Linked DNA regions of Homo sapiens: regions 2, 3, 4 and 5 are each linked to region 1. Evidence: fine-mapped expression QTL. A gene starts in region 1. Each other region holds a variant in brackets. All regions are shown on one strand. Distances are from middle to middle. Region 1 holds the start of TIGAR (TP53 induced glycolysis regulatory phosphatase). Region 2 overlaps FGF23 (fibroblast growth factor 23). Region 3 overlaps TIGAR (TP53 induced glycolysis regulatory phosphatase). Region 4 has its middle 28 kb from the start of FGF6. Region 5 overlaps TIGAR (TP53 induced glycolysis regulatory phosphatase).

Region 1 (4,384 bases):
CACTTGTATGTTGGAAACAGCTGGGGATTAAAAGCATACAGATACTGCTGCCTGAGTCTTTCCCCCAGAAGTTCAGATTTGATTTTTCTGGGGTGTAGCCTGGCAAAGGTCTCCAGACGATTCTAATGTAAAGATAGGTTTGAGGACCTCTAAACTAGTTCTGTGTCACCGCTGACCAGTTGTGTGAGCCTAGACAAATCGCTGTCTCTCTCTCGGCCATATTTCTTTTTTTTTTTTTTTGAGATGGGGTCTTGCTCTGTCACCCAGGCTGGAGTGCAGTGTTGGAATCTCGGCTCACTGCAACCTCTGCCTCCCGGGTTCAAACGATTCTCCTGCCTCAGCCTCCCTAGTAGCTGCGACTACAGGCACGTGCCACCATGCCCGGCTAATTTTTTGTATTTTTAGTAGAGATGGGGTTTCACCGTGTTAGCCAAAATGGTCTCTATCTCCTGACCTGCAGATTCTCCTGACCTGCCTTGGCCTCCCAAAGTGCTGGGATTACAGGCGTGAGCCACCATGCCCGGCCATATTTCTCATCTCTAAAGTGAAGATAATGTAGCCTATCCTGTCTACCTTAGAATTGTTCAGAAGGCCAAATGTGATATTACATGTAAGACTGTTTTGAAATGTGTGCCTATGAATCTAAGTATCTCATTCATCTCTTCTCTAAACACATCTTTTCATATATAAGTGGGGATTCAAGGAAATAAATGCATTATGAAATACAAGAATTTAGGTAACAGTGCATGGAAGACAATGTCACCTAGCTAACATTATTGTTACTTGTGTCACATTGCTAGGTACTGCTATCCCAGTTTACCTGTCACAAAACCCAGGGTTAGAGAAGCTCATGTTATAAATAAACTTTCAGTGCCACAAAAGAAATAGCACTCGAATATAAAATTTTCTTTTTAATTCTCAGCAAGGCAAGGTACTTCTATAGAAGGGTGCGTCCTTACAGATGGAGCAATGGTGAGCGCACACTTGGACAAGGGAGGGGAAGGGGTTCTTATCCCTGACGCACGTGGCCCCTGCTGCTGTGTAGTGCCCCACCGCACAGGCTAAACTAATTCCGATTGGCTAATCTAAAGAGAGTGATGGGGGTGAGTGGTTTGGCGGGAAAAACAGTTATGACAGAGCAGGTAATCTGAGTCAGGGTGGCGTAGGTAATGGGAAGGAGTCAGGGTGGAGTAGGTAATGGGAAGGAGTCAGGGTGGAGTAGGTAATGGGAAGGAGTCAGAGTGCAGCAGGTAATCGAAAAAGGTTGTGGCCGGGCGCGGTGGCTCACGCCTGTAATCCCACCACTTTGGGAGGTCGAGGCGGGCGGATCACGAGGTCAGGAGATCGAGACCATCCTGGCTAACACGGTGAAACCCTGTCTCTACTAAAAATACAAAAAATTAGCCGGGCGTGGTGGCAGGCGCCTGTAGTCCCAGCTACTCGGGAGGCTGAGCCAGAATGGCGTGAACCCGGGAGGCGGAGCTTGCAGTGAGCCGAGATCACACCACTGCACTCCAGCCTGGGTGACAGAGCCAGACTCCATCTCAAAAAAATAAATAAATAAATAAAAAAGAGAAGGTTGCTTTAGGAGGAAGTTAAGTTTAAAAGTAAAAAGCAAAGAATTGAACATACTGACATATTGATTCTTTGAAAAGAAATTTAGAACTCATATCTAACATGAAGCAACTCCCTCAACGTTCTGAAGGCTATTAAAGAGAAATTATTCATCTGAGGCTTGTTAAAAACGGCAAGACTTTACTCAAGACTACTGCAATAGGTGAGAGAGACTGAATTCGACTCTAGAATACAACCGGGACCAGTGGAGATTTATAGCCAGGGGGCGGGATGGAAGGGATGAAAGAGAAGATGGGAAATTACCAGAACGTGGTAAGCTATCTGGGGGAGGGGGAGGAGGAACTTTACTAGATATCAAGGGCCTTAGAAGAGAGCATCAACAGTGAGGTCTCTCTTGATAAACAGGCTTAGCAGGATTCTTTGGTAAAACCAGGCTCAGCAGGCCGAGGATGCCGTCTAGTATAGAAAAGGCCTCAAAGGAGCCCGACTAAAGTTTGGTCACGGAGGGCGTCTGTCCCGGCGGAGTTGGGGTGGGTGGGTCTAAGTCTACAGACCTGGCCGACGCTACGTCCCTAAGGTTAGGGACTAACAGACCTCATAGAACACAGTCTGTTGGTCGCTGTACACCCGTGAGGGGTTCATCACAGTGGCCAGCTATAAGACGAACGGTTGCATTCCAGCCTCAATCGCAACAACCACAAATCAGTGCGCCGGCTTCCTTATCTGCCCCGAACGCAGGCTGCCGGCTATCGAGGGAAGGAATCCTACCGCGGACTCCGCGGGCGGGGCCTCCCGCACCTGCCGCGCGCCAATCACAGGCCGGCGCGCAGGGGCGCAAGCGCCGCAGCCCTGGGCGGGGCCCCCGTGGCTCCCTCGTCTCCCCCGCCCCGTCGGCCTCGCCCGGCCCTGAGTGGCCTTCGGGGATGACGTGCGAGGCCGCCTCGGCCTATGGCGGCGGAGCCGGCCGGCTGCTTGGCGGAAGTGGTGTGGGGGAGGTAGCCCGCAGTGCAGGGGCAGCGCGGCGCGGGGCCACCGACGGGACGCGGCTCCGGGAACATGGCTCGCTTCGCTCTGACTGTTGTCCGGCAGTGAGTATGGCTGTGGCAGGATGTCTTTCTCTCTCTCTTCCTTGAGTGTGTTGGAGCGGGTGAAGGGAAAACGGGTCCACCACCCTCTCCCCTCCCTGCTCGCTCCAGCCCGGGAGGGCTGGCTTGGAAGCGCTTTTTCCGGGGCGCTTGCCCTGGGGCCGTCCCGTGTCGCCCCTCCTCTCACCCCAGCAGCCCCGAGGGACGACGGCAGGTCTTAGATAGCTTCGTTCCGTGTTTCAGATAAAGTGAGGCCCGGAGGAGCAAGGGATCGGGGTTCGTAGGCACTTGGTGGCTGCACCAAAAACGGTGCCAGACATGTCCACAGACTTGTCTGGGTACCGATTTTGCTCCCCAGCAGATTGCAAAGAGTTTGCAGAATTGCTCGTCCATGGCTGATGTTTTTGATGCCGGCTGCCTTCCGCTATCCTCTCAGTTTCTGAGGTTCCCCCTCGTTTCCCCAGGCAGTCAGCCCCCCAGGCACATATATGAGACTTCTTTCTTTTCCCCAGAGGTTACAGTTCTGGGAGAGAAAAGAGGATCACAGCTCTGATCTCAGCAGACCGTATCATCCCAAATAAATGTTTTTATTATCATAACGTTACACGGAGCTGCATGCTGATAGGTCTTTATGTATTTGCCAAGTGTTAACGGGAGGTGAAAATCAGGGTAGTTAAGAGCACAGATTTTTATTTTTATTTTTTTTTTTTTGTGAGATGGAGCCTCGCTCTGTCACCCAGGCTGGAGTGCAGTGGCGCTATCTCTGCTCACTGCAACCTCCCGCCTCCGGGGTTCAAGCGATTCTCCTGCTTCAGCCTCCCGAGTAGCTGGGATTACAGGCATGCGCCACCACGCCCGGCTAATTTTTGTATTTTTAGTAGAGACAGGGTTTCGCCATGTTGGTCAGGCAGGTCTGGAACTCCTGACCTTAAGTGATCCGACTACCTCGGCCTCGCAAAGTGTTGGGATTACAGGCATGAGCCACCGCGCCCTGCTAAGAGCACAGATTTTTCAGGCAAGGTAGACCTCGGTTGGAGTCTGTTCTCCAGCTAAGAGCCAGGTAGCCTGGACTTAAGTTTCCTGATATGCAAATGATAGTGCGTATCTCACTACTTTAATGCGAGAATTAAATGGGGGACAGGTAAAGTGTATGATGCAACAGGGAAAGAAATATATCTGAGAAATAACTTCTATAAAGAAAGCTCCAATAAAAGTGCAGTTGATTCCCAAATACGAACGTATAGTTCAGCACACCAGCATTTTGAGTAGGTAATGTGTGCCAGTAGACTGGATCATACAGATAAATAACATACCATTTCTGCATTCATGGAGCTCACAAAGGACATTAATATGATTTAACTTTGTCAATTGACTTTAACAGCTATCTTTTCTGGCCTGTCCTTCCTTTATAAGAAAGATAATCTTAAGAATCCTCTAAAATTGTCTGTTTAGGATTAGCAGGATTTTAATGGCTACCTTAGAAATCTAGTTCCTCACTATCTCTTCTCCCACCCCTCTCGGTTGTATAGAATGCCTTGGGAGAATTCTTAACTTACTAAAGGTCACACAGCTAATCGGTAGCAGAACAGGAACTAGAGGCCTGATCACCCTTTCTTCCAATGTTAGTGCACTTTCTAGACGCCTGACCCAGCCAGCCCAGTGTCATATTTATAATTGAAACTCAGACCATCAAGGTGGTTCACCCCTGTAATCCTAGCACGTTG
Region 2 (4,384 bases), 46 kb after region 1:
GATTTTAACCTTCTCTCTTTTTATATATAAGCTTTTAAAATATAGAGCTTTTCTAAGTGCTGCTTTAGCTGTGTATCATAAATTTTGGTATGTTGTATTTTTATTGTCATTTAGTTAGATGTACTTTCTATTTTTGATTTGCTCTTTGATTCATGTATTATTTATAAATGTGCTATTTGATTCAAAATATTTGAGGATTTTTTTCAAATAGCTTGGTGATTTCCAATTAAATGGTAGGAGAGAATATTCTGTAAGATTTTGAAATTTTTAGTTAATTGAGACTTCTCAGCCAAGCATATGATCTGTTTTGATGGATGTTTAATTTGTACTCAGAAAGAGAATGTATTCTGTAGTTGCTGGATTTAGTGGTCTACACATGTCAACTAAATGAAGTTAGTTAATGATGTCCAGATATCTGTATCCTTACTAATTTTTTGTGTATTTGTTTAATCAGTTACTGAGAGAGGGGTGTTCCCATTTCTAACTAAGATTTGAACTTGTCTATTTTTTCAGTTTTGTCAGTTTTCTTCATGTATTTTATTGCTTTGTTTTTAGGGACATGAGCCATTAGGATTTTTACGTCTTCCTGATGAATTAGCCCTTTTATTATTATGAATTGTTCCTCTATTTATGCGGTATTCCTTCACTTGAAGCCTATTCTCTATGATATTAATATAGTAAGTTCATATTTTTTATATTGAATGTCTTCACTGTGTATCTTTCCATTCTTTTCTTTAAGTATGTGTTTTGTACAAAACAAATAGTTGGGTGTTTTTTAAATCCAATTTGACCACTCCTGTCTTTAGTTATAGTGTTTGGCCCATTTATATTTAATGTAATTATTAATATAATTTGGTTTAGTCTATCATTTTTCTGTTTGTCCCATTTGATTTTTATTCTCCTGCTCCTCCTTTCTTCCCTTCCTTGGAATAACTGAATTTTTTTAGTATCCTATGTTAATATCTCTATTGGCTTTTTACCTACACCTCTTTGAATTATTATTATTTTTAAATGTTTTGTTTTTAGAGACAGGGTCTGACTCTGTCACCAAGTTGAAGTGCAGTGGCACGATCATAGCTCACTGCAACCTCCGCTTCCCAGGCTCAAGTGATTCTCCAGCCTCAGCCTCCTGAGTAGCTATGACTACAGGTGCATATCACCACTCCTGACTTCTTATTGTGAGTATTTTAGTGGTCACTTTGGGGATTACAATATGCATCCTTAATTTATCACAGTCTAGAGTTAATATTGTAAGATTTTTACATACAGTGTTATCATCTTGTAACCATATTGTTTCATTTATCCCTCCCATCCTATGTGGGAGTTTTGCCTTATATATTACATCTATATATGTTACAAAACCTGCATACAGTGTTATAATTTTTGCCTTAAGCAGCCTGTTAGTGAAATCAGGGAAGAAGGTATACAATATATATAGTTTAAATGTATTCACACATTTAATGATGGTTTTCTTTCTGTAATTCTAAATGTCCATCTGGTGTTACTCCTTTTCAGCATGGCAATAATTTCTCTCCATTTTTATTCCATCTTAATTTTGAAGGACATTTTTGCTGTATGTGTAATTCTGGGTAGGTAGCTTTTTATTTTCTTTCAACCTTTTCAATACATCATTCCATTGTCTTCTAGTTTCCATGGTTATGA[G/C]AAGAAATCCACTACTATTATAGCTGTTCCTCTATATATAAAGTGTCATTTGTCTACAGTAGCTTTCAGATTTTCTGTTGATTTTTGATTTTTAACAGTTTGACTGCAATATACATAACTGTGATCTTTGCATTTGTCTTGCTTGGAGTTTTCTGAGCTTCTTGTATTAGTACACTTATTTTTAACCAATAATTGGGAAATTTTCAGCCACCATATCTTCAAATATTTTTTACTCCCCAGTTCTTTGTGCTCCTTTCCTTCTGGGACTCAACTTACTCATATGTTGGACAGCTTAATAAGGTCTCACAGATCATTGAGGTTCTACTCATTTTCAAAAAACTTATTTCTTCTCTGTTACTCAGATAAGATAATTTATATTAGCTCTATCTTTAGATCACCTTACTAGTTTCTAGTGACTGCATTTTCTCTTGATTGTGCACATGTTTTTTTCCTATTTCTTCTCATGTCCAGTTATTTTACTATTACTGATTGTGTAGGATACCATGTATTAAGTCTGAATCATGTCCTCTTCCTTTAAAAGGTGTTAAGTTCTCTTCTGGCGGTCAGTTACATTATTGGTAGATCCTTGTAGTTTGCCAGGATTGGTATAATTCTCACTTAGAGCAAGTCTGTTTCAGTTTTGAATTTAGTTTTAGGATATACCCCCTGCCTCTGGGGCTTAGTCTTATAAGAACAGCCTTTTGAGTTCTGAGGCACTCAGTAAGGTCTCTTCACCCAGGTGTGGTTGAATTTCTAACGTGTTTCAACATTGCATAGCATCTGGTATCACTCACTATCTATCTCCTGCTGCTGTAGCAGGTGACCTTTGTAGGACTCACCGTATCTTACCTCGTGCATGTGCTACCCAGTCTTTGGCGAAGGACCTGTAGTGAATGCTCATGCCCATATGTAAAGTCTCTCCTTTTCATAGTTCCTTCTGAAAGAAGGAACTCTGGGAACACCAGTCTCAGAATGTAGATTCATTATCTTGGTGTCCTGCTATCAAATCTCACGGGACGGTAACACTGTGTATGTGTTTAGTGCATAGCATTTGGTTTACTGAGATACTGACGTGGTTGTGATGGTGTGTATTTTCCAAATAAAAATTCCCTCTTTAAAGAAAACACGGCTGGGTGCGGTGGCTCATGCCTGTAATCCCAGCACTTTGGGAGTCTGAGGTGGGTGGATCACGAGGTCAGGAGTTCGAGACCAGCCTGGCCAAGATGGTGAAACCCTGTCTCTACTAAAATTACAAAAATTAGCCAGGCGCAGTGGCAGGTGCCTGTAATCCCAGCTACTTGGAAGGCTGAGGCAGGAGAATCGCTTGAACCTGGGAGGCAGAGGTTGCAGTGAGCCGAGATCGCGCCACTGCACTCCAGCCTGGGTGACAGAGCAAGACTCCATCTTAAAAAAAAAAAAAAGAAAGAAAGAAAGAAAGAAAACACTTTAGGGTTAGAATGACCAGAAATCCAATATTGATAAAACTTAAATAATTCTGTCTAGATCAATTAAAATCATTGAGTCTCCTTATGAATGGAAGAAATCTTTGAAAATTTTAAAATTCTAAAATCTTTTTTTCAATTTTGCCTTCTCTGGATTTCCCTAATGTTCCCCTCCCATAATCCTTTTTATTCTTATATTCCGACATGCTTTTAAGTAGTACTACAAAGAGGATAAGCTAACAGAAGCTGAGATAAATTTTATTTTTATTTTAAACAGAAGAAAGGAAAAAGGGGTTACATTTTTATAAATATCTATAAATATAGAAGGATAGGCAAACTTCCAAATAAATAAATAAATACTGCCACATGACGAGGGATATAAGAAATTGTAGGAGCTATTTTGGCTTTGCCATAAAGAAAACCCCTGATGGTAGTGTTGAGTTTGTGAGATTACAACTAGTTTTCCACCAAAATCCTTTTGGGATCTTTCACTGAGGAGCCTCCAATAGCTATTATGCAGGATAATATTTCCAACAGGAAATGAAAACAGAAATATTAAAATATTTGCCATGCATGGCTATATACTATTATACATAGTTTTACTGTTTCAGAATAGGAACCAGTCCTTCAAGTTCAGCTTAAAACCATCAGGTAAAAACAGTTGCCCAACATTTCTCTCATAACCAAAAAGAATAGATCAAAGTATAAGGTTAGTATGTGATGGCAGTGAGAAAAAAAAAAGTGACTGGGAAGAAGCTGTTGTTGAATCGACTTTGCTTGTTAATATACTGTCCTTTAGGTGGTCATTTAAAGAGAGGGAGGAAAATGGAGCCCCCTTACAGGAAGAACCGCAGTAATGGGGTAAGGCTTCATTTAATGCACCAAGAATTTCCAAGGGGATTGAGACCCAGATGTGTCAGCCTAGGAGAGTTTTAACTAATCGAAGAGCCACTGCTGCTGCAGAGCCCTAGAGACCACAGACAAGAGCCTGACCATGTGGTTGTCTTTTCATAACTTCTATAACATGTCCCCTGATTTCTTTCCCCCTGAGTCCTTGATGCCACTTCATTTAGAGAAAAGGACACGATTTTTCAGTCCACAGAAAACCTAACCCAGAGCAGTCCCAGTCTCTCAAAGCCCCCTTCCCAGTCACATTTTTGTAGTTTGTTCAGAATGGATTCCTACTCAACCTGGAAGTAGAGCCTTAATTAAATGCCTCTTAGGAGAGTTGGAATTTATTTCCATTTTGAAAAGCAAATTCTAGCAGGGCAGATTTTCGT
Region 3 (4,384 bases), 38 kb after region 1:
AAAAGTGAGAGGAAGGTAGAGAGATTTCCCATCTATCCCCTGCCCCTACACACGCATTGCTTCTCCTACTATCAACATCCCCCACCAGACCAGTGCATCTGTTACCATCGGTGAGCCCACATTACACTGACATATCCACATCACCTGAAACCCATAGTTTACATTAGGGTTCATTCTTGGTGTTGCATGATCTGTGGGTTTGGACAAACGTATGAAGACATGTATTCCACCATTATAGTATCATGCAGAGTATTTTCACTGCCCTAAAAGTCCTCTGTGTTCCCTGTACTCATCTTTCCCACCTTGTCTTGCCTGTTTCTGTTAGGTTTAGTCCGAGGCCTAGCAGAGGGAATGGGCAGAAGTTTCCAGTTCCAGGCTTCACCCCAGGCTCGCAGCTTCAAGCAGAGCCTGTCGCTTAGGCTCCCTTGCACCTGGAGTCGAAACCATGGCTCCCATTCACCTGTCTCTTATTTTCCTGTCCTTCCCACTCCTCACTCACCTACTATTCATTTCCATTTTTGGATGAGGATTCTCCTTTATTGCTTTTTAACTAAAAACCTGTTTTAGTTAGCATCTTTATTCTAATTTCTTTAAATGCTATGTCATACTCAGCAAGGACATGCTCATATTAGGGGAAGCACATAAAGTAAGATATCCCTGAGAGAACAGTGCATCTCACACCCATTCCATGGCTTAGGCTTATGCAGGAAGTGCAATATTTGGCCATATCACTTAAGTACATATGCTTATATTATGTATACTTGCATGCATATTACATTTACAAGTAGATGAATTCGTGTAAGTTAAATGGTTCTATTATATGTCTTCACTATATTAAGGTCAGTCACAATTTAATTGAAATAGATCATCCTAGGTGAATCCACCTGGCATAATTATCAGCCCTGTTAAGCACAGACACAGGAGATGCAAAGGAAAGAAGTATTCAGTAGAGCGGTGGTGCTGGGCTGAGTACCTGCTATCAGACGCAGCACTTACCAGTTTGGAAATTGAATGGGGCTCCTAGAAAACATCCTTGTTTCATGTAAATGTTGCTTTTTACCCCTCTTTCTTTGGGCCCCATCAATTTGGAAGTACAGCTTTCAGATTGAAGTATGTGTCAGTTCCTTTGTGTCCAAACAAGATGGCTAAGTAGGTCGTCATGACAGGTAACTACCAGTGCTTTAAAAACTTTAGGATTTCCCCCCACAGTTCTCAATCACTTGGTTCATTGTTCAGCAATATGGCCTAAGGGGGTGATTTCTTCATTGATAAGTGACAGGGCAGGGACACTGGAAAGATCTATTGTCAGAAGGCCTGGATTCAGGTTCAAGGCCTGGTTCTTAGTAATTTTGTGACCAAGCAATCGCTGAGGTGGCTGGGCGTGGTGGCTCGCACCTGTAATCCCAGCACTTTGGGAGGCCAAGGCGGGCAGATCACGAGGTCAGGAGATAGAGACCATCCTGGCTAACACAGTGAAACCTCGTCTCCACTGAAAAATAGAAAAAATTAGCCAGGCCTGGTGGCCGGCGCCTGTAGTCCCAGCTACTTGGGAGGCTGAGGCAGTAGAATGGCGTGAACCCGGGAGGTGGAGCTTGCAGTGAGCCAAGGTCGCGCCACTGCACTGCAGCCTGGGTGACAGAGCAAGACTGGGTCTCAAAAAAAAAAAAAAAAAATCATTTGATAAATAATGGGCTGTGCATGGTGACTCAGGCCTGTAATCCCAGCACTTTGGGAGGCCAAGGTGGGTGGATTACCTGAGGTCAGGAGTTCAAGACCAGCCTGGCCAACATGGTGAAACCCTGTCTTTACTAAAAATACAAAAATTAGCTGGGCGTCTCCAAAAAAAAAAAAAAAGAAAAAGAAAAATC[A/G]CTGAGCTACTGTATCCTCATAGAGAATAATTACAGTAATGTGTATGTGCGTGTGTTTTGGTAATCTTTTATCTTGGATTTATCAAACCTACAGAAAAGTTGCAAGAACAGTAGAAGGAATGGCTGTATACTCTTCACACTTATTCACCACTTGCTTACCTGTTGTCCCACTTGCTTTGCCATTTTTTCTCTCTCCCTCTGTTTTCCCCTGAAACATTGGAGAGTAACTTTGAGTCCTCATACTCTTCCCCTATAAAATTTCAATGTGTGTTTCCTGAGATCAACAATGTTCTTATATATAACCCAGAATAAATATCTGAGTCAGGAAATTTGACATTGATATTGCCTATTAGCTAATCCTTAGACCAAATTTAAATTCTGTCAATTATTTTGTTGATGTACCTGTGGCTTTTTTTTTTTTTCTGAATCAAGAATCCAATCAATCCAGGACTGTGTGTTGTGTTGCATTTAGTTGTCATGTTTCTTCATGTCCTTCCGTCTACTCCTTTGCCTTCCTTTGCCCTTCTTTTTTTCTCCCACCATCTATCTAACCAGATGAACTTTGTCTTTCTTGATCTTGTTACTTTTTAAAAAATAGGTGAGTTCTTGTGGTTTTTTTTCCTGACATATCCTCATTATTAGATTTGGATTGTATACTTTTGTCAGAAGCAGCCCAGAAAGGATGTGTCCTTGGTCATGTCAGGAGGGACAGGACGTTGTATCAATATGTCTGGTTCCTCATTAAATTTGCAACTACTCTTTTAGCCTTTATTGTTTATTTTCTGACTCTGTTTTTTTTTTCTTTAGCCAACTCACGCCATGACTCTACTTTTGCTTCTATGTTTATTAGTTGGCATTCTGTACTAAGACAGCTTTACCCTTCTTGCCTACTTATTTATGTCAGTATGAGCTCAGAAGTTCTTATTCAGGGGCTTATAATACAGTACTCTTATTATTTTATGGTTACACAGTCCCAACTTTGTCCTGTGGGAACCCTTTCAGGCTGGCTCTTATGTTCTGGTGACATAATCTCATCCTTCTTTAAGTACTTTCTTTCTGGTATTAACAATATGCTCCAGACTCATTCTTCCCGAGCCCCAGCCCCAGAATCAGCTTTTTCTCTAAAGAGCCCTGGTTCTTTGGAAATGAAATGAAAGACGCCTGGTGTGCATGGTATTTAGAAACCAAGATCTCGGTGCCAGGGTGCTCATTGCTAATAGTGCCTTTAAAAAAATTACTGCATTGAATTCCAATGCATAGATACACAACAGTTTGTTTATTCTTCCATTGACGGAACACAAGGACCATTTCTAGTTTGGAGCTATTATGAATAAAGCTGCTATAAATATTTTTACAAGTCTTTTTGCGGACGTATGTTTTCATTTCTCTTGGGTAAATAATCTGGGAGTGGAATTGCTGAGTTATAGGTTATATGTTGGTGTATGTTTAGTTTTATAAGACACTTGCCAGATCTTTTTCCATGGTGGTTGTACCATTTCATGCTTATCAACAATGAGTTCTAGGTGCTTCACATCCTTGCCAACATTTGTTATTATCAGTTTCTAAAATTTTAGCCATTCTGATTGTTGTATGGTAGTATATCCCTGCAATTTTAACTGGTGATATGGAATGCTTTTTAATGTACAATTCTTATTGATCATTCATACAGCTTTCTTTGTGAAATGTGTATTAAAATCTTATCCATTAAAAAATTGTGTCATCTTTTTATTTTTGAGTTGTAGGAGTTCTTTATATGTTTTGGGTATACAAGTTCTTTGTCAGATGTGTGTGTGTGTATGTATGTGTGTATGTGTGTGTGTGTGTGTGTATATATACACATGTATCTACATATATATAATTTTATTCCAGTCTGTATATTTATTATAAAATATGTTATTCTACCATTTATCAATTTTTTTAAGTTGTTGATTTTCATAAGACTGATTTACCATTGTGTTTGTTTTATGATTATTGCTTTTTTTTTGTCAAAGAAATTTTTGTCTATCCCCTGGTCATGGAGACTCTGTTTTCTTCTAGAAGATTTGTGATTTATAAGTTTTATATTTAGGTCTTGATCCATCTGGAATTTTTGTGTGTGGTATGAGGTAGCAGGTTCAGGCTTATGGTTATTTACCTGGATATCAAATTGTTCTAGCAGCATTTGTTGAAAAGACTTTTCTTTTCCCTTGAATTTATTTGGTTCTTTTGTCATAATTCAACTTATTGTGTAAGTGTTGGTGTATTGCTGGGCTCCTTATTTAATTCCATTTATCTTTTTGTCTATCCATATGCAAATATCACACTGTCCTGATTATTCTACATTCATAGCAAGTCTTGAAATCAGTGTATAAGTCACCTATGTACTTGTTCTTTTTCAGGGTGGTGGTTGTTGTTTTGGCTCATTGCAGGTCCTTTGTATTTCCACATAAATTTTTTAAAAATATACTTTTTAGAGCAGTTTTTAGATTTATAGAAAAATTGAGACAATATGTAGAATTCCCATACACCTGCATCCA
Region 4 (4,384 bases), 97 kb after region 1:
AAAAAGAATGAATTTTTAAAAATATAAATAAGTACCAAATATTCCATGAAAGCATACTTGTACTAAAACATTTTTCATTGTTTATCTGAAATTCCATAATTCAGGTATTGTGTTTCTATTTGCTAGATCTGCAGCCCTACGCAAGGAGTATGAGAAGATCCACAGTAAAGGATCCTGAGAGCAGACTTCATGGAATTCAAAGTACGCGGCCAAGCTAAGTCCACATTTCTCTCCCCAGTGTGTGTGTGCACGAGAAACCATGGCATGTCTCAGGTCTGGGGTCTGGTTGTGTGTCCCGAGTTGGTTCCTTCTGGTGGGTTCGTGGTCTCGCTGACTTCAAGAATGGAGCCTCGGACCTTTGCGGTGAGTGTTACAGCTCTTAAAAATGGCACAGACCCAAAGAGTGAGCAGCATCAAGATTTATTGTGAAGAGGGAAAGAGCAAAGCTTCCACAGTGTGGAAGGGGAACCTGAGCGGGTTACTGCTGCTGGCTGGGGGTGGCTAGCTTTTATTTCCTTATTTGTCCCTGCCCATGTCCTGCTGATTGGTCCATTTTACAAACCCGTAGCTAGCTACAGAGCGCTGATTGGTGCATTTTTTTTTTTTGTTTGTTTGTTTGTTTTGAGACAGAGTCTTAGTCACTCAGGCTGGAGTGCAGTGGCACAATCTGAGCTCACTGCAACCTCTGCCTTCTGGGTTAAAGTGATTCTACTGCCTCAGCCTCCGGAGTAGCTGGGACCACAGGTGCCTGCCAGCACACCTGGCTACTTTTTTGTATTTTTAGTAGAGACGGGGTTTCACCGTGTTAGCCAGGATGGTCTCGATCTCCTGACCTCGTGATCCGCCTGCCTCAGCCTCCCAAAGTGCTGGGATTACAGGTGTGAGCCACCGTGCCTGGTCTGATTGGTGCGTTTTACAAGCCTCTAGCTAGCTCCAGAAAAGTTCTCCAAGTCCCCACTGGACCCAGGAAGCCCAGCTGGCTTCACCTGTCAGTTGGAGGGAAGGAGAGAGGGACCTAAGAATTCAGTGTGCTGCCACAGCAGGCAACCTTGATGACATGGTGCTAAATGCAATGAGCCAGACACGAAAGGACAGATGTCGCATCATTCCATCCATGTGAAGCACCTGGAATACGCACATTCATAGAGACAGGTAGCGGAATGGTGGTTTTCGGGGGTTGGGGGTGAGGGGCAATGGCGAGTTAGTATTTAATGGGGCAGAATTTCAGTTGGGGAAAATGAAAAAGTTCTGGAGAGGGATGGTGGTGACGGTTACACCACATTGTGAATATAGGCAACACCACGACACCGCAGAGTTAAACAAGATTAAAAGTGCAAATTTTATGCTATGCATATTTCATCACAATTATACACAGAAAGATTTCAGTTCGAGGTCCTGCCCTGTCCTTAAAAGAGCTCTCTAGAGAGCAGCAGCCAGCTCGCCCCCGGGTTGCCCTGGACATGAGAAACACAGAAATACACATGAAGCTCAGGCTTCTCCTGTTGCTCAGCATCCAGGGTGCAGGGGCCAGGCATTCAGCGCCAGCCAGGAGCGGGAGAGGTTTATGTGGCTCGGTGGAGGTCACACTGCAGACAGAGGCTCAGGGAACCCAAGTCTCCCAGCCTCCATGTGGGGCTCATTCCTCTGCCTTAAAGGGAGAGGAACACACAGCCCTCCTGCTGCTCCTCCTCCCGCTCCAACCCGTGTAATGAGCTAATCTCCGAAAAGAGCTTAGAGCTCTTCTCAGAAAGATGCTCTATAAATACAGCATCCTCTTGCTAACCAGGACTCCAGGGGTGAGGAACAGATCACTGGAGGGATCCAGATGGGGGGAAGGGGTCCCTGGGGGACTTAAATTTAACCCCAGAAACTGGGCTCAGGTCACTGGCTGCGACAGCCCTGTGCGCTGTCCCCAGGAGAAACCATCCGGAGAATACTGTTTATTCTTTGTAATTTAGGGGCTTTCCCTGCCCCCAGTCACTGCCTAGGAGGATCATGGATTAATATGGGCTTTTGGATAGAATATGAATTTTTATCAGCAGCTGTTAGGACATCTTCCCTGATCTTTGCTTTAGGGGCCCAGGCTCTGCTAAATTCAGACCAGACAGAGTTAGTTGCTTCTCAGACAGACCTTACAAGGAAGCAGCAAGGCCAGAGAGG[C/T]GTGGGGTAAACAATTTCAATGAGAGTTCTCAATCTGCCGTGGGCACACGTCACCAGGGGCTTCTGAGAGCTTTTGCTCGACCTTCTCCAGTTAAACAAACTACTGCAGTCCTTCTCTCCCCGTCACCCCAAACTGCACTTTTAATAACAAATATTTTATAACACTATCTTTACTATTTAAAGTGAAACTGATGGTCAATATAATAGTACCTACACATATCACTTAAAAAATTAATATAATGCCTTAACTGTAGAGAAAAAAGGGAGCAGGTAACTTAAAAGATTGTATTTCAAGATCTAAATGCTCAGGCACAGCCACATTAAGACAATGGAGGATTCAGATGCTCATAGTTAGTTGTAATGAATACATTTGGATTTAAGAATGGCAAGAAAGTGTTCCACTAAAAATTATGTGCCGTTTTTGACATTTGAGATAGGATTAGGTATGTCTGTGTAAATGCATATAGTGAGAGAATCACTGCGATTGTGAGAGCTACAAATGTACTGATAACTGACGGGTTATCATGCTAGGGTTTTTCAAAGTGGTGCACTGTGCTTGAAAGGTTTCACACAAAATACAGACTTCCCTAGATTTATACCCTCGTTGGGAAACTTTGCGTTTTAAAGCGACAGAGAAAAACATTCTCTGCTTTATGTAAAGCAGTTTGATTCTAGGCTCAGATTTATAAACAGGTGTTCTACCTACATGACATTCTGAAAGCTGAGCAATTGCAGGACAATTCTTCATGATGGAGACTGTCCTCTGTGTTGCAGATGCCTCTCATCTGTGGCTTCTGTTCACTGATGCTAGCAGCATCCCCAGTCACTGTGATAACCAAACACCCTCCCGAACTGCCGAAGTGCTCCATCGAGATCCACCGATGCAACAGGGCTGAAAGTGCCTAGTCCTTACAGAGATGTTCCTTTCATTTCATTTCCTTTCTTTTCCTTTCCTTTCCTTTCCCTTTTCTTCCCTTTTCCTTTTTTCCTTTCATCTTTCCATATGATTCTAAGAAGTGGGATCCAGGAAAGGCAGAAAATAACTCTGTCTTCCTGTGTGGAGTGGCTCAGGAAAAACCAGATGAGTCGACTATGAGGGAACACTAGGGCAAAGGCCCTAAAGATCTTACTAGGAATCCATTTTCTAAAATCATTATATTAAAAAGATAGAGGCACTCATATGTTTATCGTAACAGTATTCACAATAGCACAAAGATATGAAATCAACCTAAATGTACATCAGTGGATGACTGGATAAAGAAAATGTGGTACATGTGCACGATGGAATACTATACAGCCATAAAAAGAATGAAATCATGTCCTTTGCAGCAACATGGATGGAACTAGAGGCCGTTGCTTAAGTGAAACAACTCAGAAAGTCAAATACCACATGTTCTCACTTTTAAGTGAGAGTTAAATAATGTGTACACATGGACATAGAGTGTGGACTGATAGAAATTGGAGACTTGGAAGGGGGACAGTGAGAGGTGGTTGGGCGATGAGAAATTACTTAATGAGTACAATGTACATTATTTGCATTATGGATACATTAAAAGCCCAGACTTTGCTACTAAGCAATATATCCATTTAACAAAATCGTGCTTGTACCCCTTAAATTTAATCTCCTAAGAATCCATGAACAGTAGGGATTCTCATAAGAATCCATTTTCTTTCTTTTTCTTTGAGACAAGGTCTCACTCTGTCACCCAGGCTAGAGTGCAGTGGTGCAATCACAGCTCACTGCAGCCTTGAACTCCCGGGCTCAGCCTCCCAAGTAGCTGGGCTACAGGCATGTGCCGCCACACCCGGCTAATTTTTCCACTTTTTGCAGAGACGAGGGTTCACCACATTGCCCAGCCTGGTCTCGAACTTTCGGGCTCAAGCAATCAGCCTGCCTTAGCCTTCCAAAGTGTTGCGATTACAGGTGTGAGCCATGGCGCCAAGCCAAGAATCCATTTTCATTCAGACTTCTGTAAGTGATTTACACTTCACACAACTCTTTCCAGCGTATCATCTCATTTGAATCTACACACTGATTCTGCTTGGTAGGCAGGGCTGGAATATAAGCTGCACTTAAGAGATGAAGACATAGAGGCAGAACGAGCTTAAGTGATTTATTTATCCAAGGTTATTCTCTATCTCATCCCTGTGTATATTTCCTTGCCAGCCCTCCCATGACATGCAGTAATGCTGTACTGTTGCCTGGGAAACTCATGGATGTGTC
Region 5 (4,384 bases), 27 kb after region 1:
ATCCTAAGCCAAAAGAACAAAGCTGGAGGCATCACGCTACCTGACTTCAAACTATGCTACAAGGCTACAGTAACCAAAACAGCATGGTACTGGTACCAAAACAGAGATATAGACCAATGGAACAGAACAGAGCCCTCAGAAATAATACCACACATCTACAACTATCTGAACTTTGACAAACCTGACAAAAACAAGAAATGGGGAAAGGATTCCCTATTCAACAAATGGTGCTGGGAAAACTGGCTAGCCATATGTAGAAAGCTGAAACTGGATCCCTTCCTTACACCTTATACAAAAATTAATTCAAGATGGAGTAAAGACTTACATGTTAGACCTAAAACCATAAAAACCCTAGAAGAAAACCTAGGCAATACCATTCAGGACATAGGCATGGGCAAGGACTTCATGACTAAAACACCAAAAGCAATGGCAACAAAAGCCAAAGTTGACGAATGGGATCTAATTAAACTAAAGAGCTTCTGCACAGCAAAAGAAACTACCATCAGAGTGAACAGGCAACCTACAGAATGGGAGAAAATTTTTCCAATCTACTCATCTGACAAAGGGCTTATATCCAGAATCTACAAAGAACTCAAACAAATTTGCAAGAAAAAAACAACCCCATCAACAAGTGGGCAAAGGATATGAACAGACACTTCTCAAAAGAAGAAGTTTATGTAGCCAACAGACAGATGAAAAAATGCTCATCATCACTGGCCATCAGAGAAATGCAAATCAAAACCACAATGAGATACCGTCTCACACCAGTTAGAATGGCAATCATTAAAAAGTCAGGAAACAACAGGTGCTGGAGAGGATGTGGAGAAATAGGAACACTTTTACACTGTTGGTGGGACTGTAAACAAGTTCAACCATTGTGGAAGACAGTGTGGCAATTCCTCAGGGATCTAGAACTAGAAATACCATTTGACCCAGCCATCCCATTTCTGGGTATATACCCAAAGGATTATAAATCATGTGCTATAAAGACACATACACATGTATGTTTATTGCGGCACTATTCACAATAGCAAAGACTTGGAACCAACCCAAATGTCCAATAATGATAGACTGGATTAAGAAAATGTGGCACATATACACCATGGAATACTATGCAGCCATAAAAAAGGATGAGTTCATGTCCTCTGTAGGGACATAGATGAAGCTGGAAACCATCATTCTCAGCAAACCATGGCAAGGACAAAAAACCAAACACCGCGTTTTCTCACTCGTAGGTGGGAATTGAACAATGAGAACACTTGGACACAGGAAGGGGAACATCACACACCAGGGCCTGTTGTGGGATGGGGGGACGGGGGAGGGATAGCATTAGTAGATATACCTAATGTAAATGGCGAGTTAATGGATGCAGCACACCAACATGGCACATGTATACATATGTAACAAACCTGCACGTCGTGCACATGTACCCTAGAACTTAAAGTATAATAAAAAATATATATTAAAAAAAAATGACAAAGAGACATATGAAAAAGTGCTCAACATCATTGGTAATCAGAGAAATGCATATCCAAACTACAATGAGTATTTTACCCCAGTTAAAATGGCTTTTATCCAAAAGACAGGCAATAACACATGCAGGCAAGGCCATGGAGGAAAGGGAACACTTGTATGCTGTTGGTGGGAATGTGAATTAGTACAACCACTGTGAAGAATTGTTTGGAGGGAGGTTCCTCAAAAAACTAAAAATAGAGCTACCATGTGATCCAGAAGTTCCACTGCTAGGTATGTACCCAAAGAAAGGAAATCAGGATATTGAAGAGATATCTGCACTCCCATATTGCAGCACTTTTTACAGTAGCCAAGATTTGGAAATAATCCAAATGTCCATCAGCAGATGAATGGATAAAGGAAATGTACACACACAAACAATGAAGTACTTTTCAACCACAGAGAAGAATGAGATCCTGTCATTTGCAACAACATGGATGGAACTGGAGGTCATTATGTTAAGTGAAGTAAGCCAGGCACAGAAAGACAAACTTGTCATGTTCTCACTTATTTGTTGGAGCAAAAAATTAAAACAATTGAACTCATGGAGATAGAGAGTAGAAGGATGGTTACCAGAGTCTGGGAAAGGTAGTAGGGGGAGGTGTTGGGGAAGTGGGGATGGTTAATGGGTACAAAAAGAAAGAATGAATAAGACCTAGTATTTGATAGCGCAACAGGGTGGCTATAGTCAATAA[C/T]AATGTAATTGTACATTTGAAAATAACTAAAAGGATATAATTGGATCATTCGTAACAAAAAGGATAAATGCTTATGGGGATGGATACCCTGCTTACCAGGATGTGATTGTCATGCATTGCATGGCTGTATCAAAGTGTCTCATGTGCCCCATAAATATATACATTTACTGTATACCCACAAAAATTAAAAATTAAAATACAAACAGAAAAAAGCCAAAAAATGAAAACCTCAGTGGAAGTACTGAAGTATAGATCACACACGGCTGAAGTGATCATTATAGATAAATATATGATAATAACCTAAATGTAGCACGGCATGATAGATTTAAAATATGAGAGTTTAGCTGGGCACAGTGGCTGATGCCTGAAATTGCAGCACTTTGGGAGGCCGAAGCGGGAAGATCACTTGAGCTCAGGAGTTTGAGACCAGCCTGGGCAACATAGGGAGACCTTGTCTCTACAGAAAATAAAAAAGTTAGCTGAGTGTGGTGGCACTTGCCTGTAGTCCCAGCTACTTGGGAGGCTGGGGTGGGAGGATCACTTGAGCTCAGGTAGTTGAGGCTGCAGTGAATCGTGATTGTGTCACTTCACTCCAGCCTGGGTGACAGAGCGAGACCCTGTCTCAAAAAAAAAAGTCCCTTTAAAAAATAAATAAAATAGGAGACATTAGAAGACATGAAGAGCATGATGAGAAGTTCTAATGTCTTTCAGAAAGAGATAGCAGAGAGAATGGGAGGAAGAGGTGATATTCAGAGGTTACAGAATATTGACAATTTTACAGAATTTACAGAATTGTTGAAAGATCCAAGAAGTGTACCAAATCCCAACCAGGATAAGTAAAGAAACCCATATCTACATTCATTATAGCAAAATTGCAAGACTCCAAAGAATGAGGAAAAAACCATCCTTTATTAAAGACCATTAGTTAGGCTGTCAGCAAATTTGTTCATATTGATGATTTCTTTATTGTGCTGAGAAATAACAAGGATTAACCTAGAGTTTTATACCCAGCAAGATTTTTTTCTGCTGTGTAGGTGAAATGACATTTCAGACAAAGAGATTCTGAAGTAACTTTGAAAGGAAAAATGAAAAAGAAGGAAAATAATTGCAGAAGGGAGATCTGAGTTTCAGAAAAGAATAGTGAGCAAAGAAGTTGGTAAAGGTTTAGGAAAATACAAGGAAATATTGACAGTACATATAAAACAGTATGATGATGATGTCTAATTTGTTGGGAAATGTGTTTTTAAAAAAGGCAGATCATGGACCTAAATTATTTCTATGTGACAGGGTCGCTTGTCAATCAAAAATTGCTAGACTTACAATGAGAGAAGGAAATGTGAATAAAAATGAGCTAAAGACAACAGAAACAGCCACATGACTTACCCGATGGAGTTACCAGACATGAGCTTTAAAATAACTATATTTTTGTATAGGTGAAAGATGTAGAATTTCAGTACAGAACTGTAATAAACTGTAAAAAAGAGCCAAATGCAAATTCTAGAACTAAAAATACAATTGGAATTAAGGCTCAATGGATGGGTTTAACAACAATTTAGACACATTTGAATGGCGAATTAAGGAATTAGAATGGGGATTAGTAAACATTTTCTGTAAAGAGCCAGATAGTAATTTTTTTTTAGGGTTTATAGTCTATACAGTCTCTGTTAACACCTGTTCAAGTCTGCGGTAATAGCAAGAAAGCAGCCATCAACTGTGCATGAATGAATGCTGTGGCTGTGTCCCAGTAAAATACTTTATTTGCAAAAGCAGATGATGGTCTGGATTGTGCTGACTTCTGAACTAAAAGATAGGTTAGAAGAGAATATCAAAATCAGGAATGAAGAGACACAGATGTGTACACAGATGTACACAGAGAGGCAACTTTTGCAAAGGAAAATCATTTCTAGTTTTGTTTTTTTTTTTTGAGATGGAGTCTCATTCTGTCACCCAGGCTGGAGTGCAGTGGCGCAATCTCAGCTCACTGCAACCTCCGCCTCCCAGGTTCAAGCAATTCTTCTGCCTCAGCCTCCCGAGTAGCTGGAACTACAGGTGCGTGCCACCACATCCGGCTAATTTTTTGTATTTTTAGTAGAGATAGGGTTTCACCATGTTGGCCAGGATGGTCTCGATCTCCTGACCTCATGATCCACCCGCCTCAGCCTCCCAAAGTGCTGGGA

The links. PIP is the estimated chance that this variant, and not a neighbour inherited with it, causes the effect.
Region 2: its variant is the best candidate, but not a certain one, in a credible set for the expression of TIGAR in neural progenitor cells (Aygun 2021, PIP 0.87).
Region 3: its variant is the best candidate, but not a certain one, in a credible set for the expression of TIGAR in whole blood (INTERVAL, PIP 0.73).
Region 4: its variant is the best candidate, but not a certain one, in a credible set for the expression of TIGAR in tibial artery (GTEx, PIP 0.74).
Region 5: its variant is the best candidate, but not a certain one, in a credible set for the expression of TIGAR in pancreas (GTEx, PIP 0.55).

Annotation. Positions count from the first base shown.
Region 1 is chr12:4,318,641-4,323,024 of GRCh38, forward strand. It overlaps TIGAR (TP53 induced glycolysis regulatory phosphatase), which reads left to right and starts at 2,573. Exons shown (of 6, transcript NM_020375.3): 1 at 2,573-2,663. The coding sequence starts at 2,632. RefSeq lists an enhancer at 2,165-2,818 and a silencer at 2,284-2,663.
Region 2 is chr12:4,365,105-4,369,488 of GRCh38, forward strand. FGF23 (fibroblast growth factor 23) reads right to left here. Exons shown (of 3, transcript NM_020638.3): 3 at 3,123-4,384. Among named protein-coding and RNA genes, the nearest start is that of FGF23, 12 kb to the right of the region's middle. The variant G/C (reference allele first, on the strand shown) is at 1,663.
Region 3 is chr12:4,356,449-4,360,832 of GRCh38, forward strand. TIGAR (TP53 induced glycolysis regulatory phosphatase) reads left to right here. Exons shown (of 6, transcript NM_020375.3): 6 at 1-3,580. Among named protein-coding and RNA genes, the nearest start is that of FGF23, 21 kb to the right of the region's middle. The variant A/G (reference allele first, on the strand shown) is at 1,869.
Region 4 is chr12:4,415,996-4,420,379 of GRCh38, forward strand. No RefSeq gene overlaps it. Among named protein-coding and RNA genes, the nearest start is that of FGF6, 28 kb to the right of the region's middle. The variant C/T (reference allele first, on the strand shown) is at 2,161.
Region 5 is chr12:4,345,305-4,349,688 of GRCh38, forward strand. All of the region lies in intron 3 of TIGAR (TP53 induced glycolysis regulatory phosphatase), which reads left to right. Among named protein-coding and RNA genes, the nearest start is that of TIGAR, 26 kb to the left of the region's middle. The variant C/T (reference allele first, on the strand shown) is at 2,208.